Regions from separate parts of the Homo sapiens genome. Here region 2 is linked to region 1. Evidence: fine-mapped expression QTL. Tissue or cell type: spinal cord. Region 1 holds a variant in brackets; the other region holds the start of a gene. All regions are shown on one strand. Distances are between the middles of the regions.

Region 1 (2,760 bases):
CAGACTAAATCCTCTACAACCCTTTGGTAATGCTTTCCTGGCCTGTGGTTTCCCATCTCATACAAATATTCCCAATTTCTCTCTTTTATATCCATGTAACCTCTGCCTGGCAATAGGTATTAAGAATAAAGTGGGTCCGGTGGCTCATGCCTATAATCCCAGAAGTTTGGGAGGCCGAAGCGGGTGGATCACTTGAGGTCAGGAGTTTGAGACCAGCCTGGCCAACATGGTGAAACCCCATCTGTAATAAAAATACAAAAAAGTTATCCAGGCATGCTGGTGTGTGCCTGTAGTCCCAGTTACTCGAAAGGCTGAGGCAGGAGAATCACTTGCACCCAGGAGGCGGAGGCTGCAGTGAGCCGAGACTGTGCCACTGCACTCCAGCCTGGGCGACACAGTGAGACTCTGTCTCAAAAAAAAAAAAAGAATAAAACTACAACAAACCAAACAAAACAGTATTCACTAGTTATTATCAACTTTGTGCCAGACCTGGAGCCAGAACTCAATGTTATGTTAAAAGAGATAGACTCAAAGGCGGCCACAAAGCTGTGTGGACAGTGATGAGCAATTCGTGCCTTAAAGTCCAAAGGAGGTGCCTCCGGCAATACGCTCAGACAGCTGCAGCACTACACACAGACACTGGAAATACACCTCACAGAATTCTTCTGATTCTTAAAAATGGCAAGTCTCTTACCCACACATGGTAAAACGGGTGAAGAAAGCACACATAACTCAAATTCATAAAAACACCAAACTTATCTTTAAAAATGGGCTTCAACCTTCCCATCCACCCACTTCCAACCAAATTTTTAACTAGAACTATTGATGAAAAATAATGTTGGCCTGAGTCAGTTCTAGTCCCCTTTATATATTATTTTAAAATAGTATATAGCAGTGCTGTTCTATAGAAATAGAATATGAACTACATTTGTAATTTTAAATTGTCTAGTCTTCTCACTTCAAAAAGTAAAAAGAAATAGTGAAATTAAATAATTTTTAATCCCAATATATCCAAATTATCATTTCAACATGTAATTGATATAAAGAATTGCCAAAGAGACTTTTTATATTCTTTTTTGCATACTGTCTTCCAAATAGGGTGTGTAGTTTATACTTAGAGTACATCACAACTCCAGCCAGCCATATTTCAGGTGTTCAGTAGCCTCTTGGGCGTGGTGAATACCAAATCGGTCAGAGCAGGTGTATAGAGGAGGCTAGACATGGCGATCAAAAGTGCAGCCTGCAATCCAGATGCTTGAGTTTGAATATTGGCCTCATCACCTTAGCTGTATGACCTCATCTGTAAAACAAGAATACTTAAGTAATACCATCCTTAAGCCGTTGGTAT[G/A]AGGATAAAATAAAATAGTCCTTGTAAGGCTTTTTGCAAGAATTCTGGCAAATATTGTGCTTAATAAATGTTAGCTAGGGTGGTCACTTTATAATGCATGAGCTCTATACTTAAAAACATATGTGGTCCTGAACAAGTTATCTTACCTCTTTGAATATTAGTTTCCTTCTCTGTAAAACAGGGGTGATAATAATACTTCATTGAGAAGATTAACTGGTACAAACATAGCACTTAATAAATGTTCGTTTCTTTCTCCTTGACTTTAGGTGCCAATGAACAGAGAAATAGCCAAAGGGCTCGCTGAGTGGGAGCAGAGGTAAATGGGCCTGGATAATTGGAAAACTGGATAGTCACGAGGTTAACTATGCCACAGGCAAGAATCCAGATGGTTCCAACCTACCTCAGCCAGTGTGAGAATGCCCAGTAGATGTGTTTCTTTTGTAGTTCCTTTACTAGAAGCTTTATAAGAGCAGGCATGTTCACTGTTTCACAGGCTAATAGAAATAAAGTATGTATGTGCATCTTATGTAACATATCCCTACGTATGTATGCTGAATTCAGTAGGCAGCCATGTTCAGTATTTTAGAGCTGTAGCCATCACTCAACTCCCTTGTGTTGATAAGAAGAAACATTCGGGGAAAAGAAGACCTATTTGTTTATTGTAAGATTCAAAATCTCTAAGGGTAATGGCCTTTATTTCTTTCCTACTCAGAAGTTTGTTTTTCCCTATTTAATAGCTCATACAGGATTTTGAAAAAGGAAAACTTAAAAATTTTAATTAGAACCATATCCTAAATATCCTTCTGCTCTTCTGCATGTTTGTTTATTTTTTCTTAGGATTGATTTGTTCAGAGTTTTGAAATTACCAGGGAAGAGCTTTTGAGGATGTTTGAGATCCATGATTCAAAACAGGGAGGGACACATGAGTGGCAGGTGACATCAGAAGCCACCAGCCATTCCTCAAATTGCCAGCTCTGGAGCCCTCCATCCTGCACTAGAAGGAGATACTGCAAACCCTGCCAAGGTGTTCATGCTTCTCGTGCTTTAACATTTCAAAAAGCTCAATTCCCAAAGACAGTGAAACTGCCACGAAAAACAAAATGAACTCTGGATGACAAGGAGGCCCAGTCATTTCTCCTATCAATGGAAAGGGCAATTTTGATCAGAGACAAATAGTACTTGATTTTACCTATAGGGACTTATGACTTATTCACAGCTCTGACTCCTCTTCTCCACAGGAATTCAATAATGTAAACCTAATAATAAAAAATGACATAAAATGAATGTAATGAGAACACCCTAAAACTAGTTTCCCTCCTGGCCTATCTCCATGTTGCATCTTTCAGAAAGTGTCAGAAACGAGACTTAAACAAACAAATAAAAAAAAAAACCCCAAACCAGAACCTAATGCT
Region 2 (2,500 bases), 52 kb before region 1:
CTTAAGATCTTTCCCTCCTTGCTTTGAAAAGTACATCCCCCCCTCAAGACTCTCATGCTCCCCCTCCTTCCAAAAAAAGAGAAAAGGGGAGGGGGAAGCCCTAGGGATGAAAGAGGACTCCTCACCCTAGAATGGGGTTATCTTAACCTCTTCTACGCTATTTATTTAACTTGTGTGTACAGCCAGAAGGAAGCCACTACTCTGGGGTCCCTGGGACAGCTTAAAACCCTAGTGACCCACTTAACACAATAGATTGTTTTAATCAGTTCGTGTCCTGGCACCATCTCGAAGGGGAACATAAACAGACGCGCACACCGCTCAGATTTGCTCTTTCCAGCAGGAGATCCAATTACCTATCGGTGGTCACCTCTCTGCCCTCGGACCGTTTAAGAGGGGGATTTTAACCCCTAACGCTGAGGCTGTATTTCTGTCTATAAGAGCCGAGATTCGGAGTCGGTCGAGGAGGGGAAGGCAGTAGACGGATTCGACCCGGGAATGCATTAGGGACAGCTCCGGGCGCGCAGGAATTTCTTCACAGCAGAGGCTGGTCACCTGCCGTCCGTCCCTCCCCGCCTGGCCCGGTGACCGTCGCCAGAGCCTGGCGCAGGCAAATAAACGCCAAGCTGGGGCACCCCCAAGGAGGAGCTGCGATCCGAAGGCAATGCCAAGCGAGAGCGGTGGCGCGTCTGTTCTTCCGGAGTCTGTAGTCTACAAATAACTCCGGCCAGCAAGGAGGTGACAGCCCCAATATACCTCCCACTCCCCTGCTATGGCCTTGCTCCGCAAGCTGTGGAGGGGCCAGCGGAGCCAGCCAGGCAGCGAGAGAGAACGAAAGACGCCCAGCTCGTTGCAGCCGCCAACCCGCCTCAGCCGCCAGTCCCTAGTCCTCAGGAGCTAGTGAGGCGCTGCAAGGCGAGGCTGGGGCCTCTAGAACACAGTTTAAGGGGTGCGCGCGGAAGTGGGAACCAGCCGGTGGCCGCTGCCCGGCGCCAGAACGTCTACCATTCAGCCCGGGCGTGCGCGGGGCGGGGAAGAGGCTGGAGTAGAGAAGCGAGCGCCCGCGAGTGCGTGGCCGGTCCGCGAGCGCGTGTGGTGTCTGCCTTGTGAGCACTGCGGGTTCGCTGGACCCCGCGGCCAGGGCCGCGCCCCGCACCGCAGCTGTCGGATTACCCACCGTTCGGTTTTCCGCTGTGGCTGAACACAGCGGCTCTGCCCTTGCCAGTCTCCATCTCACCTCGGGGATCGGCAAATGCACACATCATGGATTCTCCGGATGCTCCAACCCGCGGACTCCAATGGGCGCCCCAAGACGCCCCCAGACCCAGCGCGGCGCCCCAAGCACATGGGACCCTCTCAAGGCAACTCGCCGCGCAGTCAGCGGCCGACTAGCAGGTCCGGATGCTCCTGCGCTCTGGCGGCCTGGACTTCGCGCCCTCGCTAAGCGGGCGCGTCTGCCAGGCGCTGCTGCCACCAGCACCAGGAGCGTGTTCGGGGGCCTCCGGGAGGTGGAAACGGGATGTGGGGGTCATCCTGCCCGCTCCTGACAACTTTTTTTCCTACGTTTCCCTGCAGACCCAGAGCAGCGAGGTCACGGTGTCCGCGGCCTCAGCAGGAAGGACCCCGCGATGGTTCTTCACAATTCACCCCCGCGAACAACGCACCCGAGCCTGCGCGCACGGAGGGCTGCCGCGCGTGGAACTGAGCGGGTCCTGGGTTGGTTTGCGGCCCTCTTCCCTCCGCCCACTCACATCCCTGCCGGGTGCGTCCGCGCTCACCTGTCAGTGCGGCGGGTCCTCGGGGCCTGCGCTTTCGACGCGTGGCGCTGAGTGCGGCCGCGGCCAGAGCCGCCGGGGCTCGGCGCGGGGTCAGCGGGACCGAGAGTGACGCGGCGGCCGTGCACTGGGTCGCCCGGTCCGCGGAAGGCGCACCGAGTGCCAGGCATCGCGCCGTCTCCCGTTTAAATGCCGGCGGCAGAGCGCGGCGCCCGGGGCCGCGCCTCTCCATTGGCCAGGCGCCGCCGCCGCCGCCAGACCCGCTATCCGCCCCCTTTCCCGGTACTGCCCCCGCCCCCCGCACCCCTCCTGCTTCCCCGCGGGGTCCCCTCTCCGCCCGCCTCGCCTCTTTGTCTGCTCCCCCCGCCCGGGCCGGCTGGGAGAGGTCACCCCAGGGAACCGCGCCTGGAATGCACAGCAAATCACATTTTCCGCTCCCGTTGGAGAGGGAAGAGCGGGAGGAAATCCCCCCGGCTGGCGGCCCCTCATTCCTTCTCTGCCCCAGGTCTGGGCTTTCCCTGTCGGCCGCCCGGCATCGCCTGCGTTGGTCCCGCGCTCAGTAGCGGAGACTGCGCTGGGAAGAGCGAGATCTCCGTGGGATCGTGCCAGATTCGGCCATTCTTCCCCTCTGGAGGGAACGGGACTGCGGGATGCTCTGGTCGAGCGGCCGTCGTGGCTCCCCGGCGGCCCCGCCCGAGGCCCCCAACTTCGAGGGCGCTGACCCCGGC

What was found. PIP is the estimated chance that this variant, and not a neighbour inherited with it, causes the effect.
Region 2: GREM1-AS1 starts here. The variant in region 1 is fine-mapped to the expression of GREM1-AS1 in spinal cord (GTEx, PIP 0.96).

The regions. Positions count from the first base shown.
Region 1 is chr15:32,665,343-32,668,102 of GRCh38, reverse strand. The region is part of intron 10 of ARHGAP11A-SCG5 (ARHGAP11A-SCG5 readthrough); the gene reads right to left. All of the region lies in intron 2 of SCG5 (secretogranin V), which reads right to left. SCG5-AS1 (SCG5 antisense RNA 1) reads left to right here. Exons shown (of 4, transcript NR_135505.1): 3 at 1,615-1,664; 4 at 2,186-2,401. LOC124903458 (a long non-coding RNA gene) reads right to left here. Exons shown (of 2, transcript XR_007064573.1): 1 at 2,538-2,760; 2 at 983-1,300. Among named protein-coding and RNA genes, the nearest start is that of SCG5-AS1, 6.3 kb to the left of the region's middle. The variant G/A (reference allele first, on the strand shown) is at 1,349.
Region 2 is chr15:32,717,437-32,719,936 of GRCh38, reverse strand. GREM1-AS1 (GREM1 antisense RNA 1) reads left to right here and starts at 1,072. Exons shown (of 2, transcript NR_109767.1): 1 at 1,072-1,392; 2 at 1,573-1,836. GREM1 (gremlin 1, DAN family BMP antagonist) reads right to left here and starts at 1,933. Exons shown (of 2, transcript NM_013372.7): 1 at 1,776-1,933. RefSeq lists enhancers at 633-1,210, 1,211-1,789, 1,927-2,427.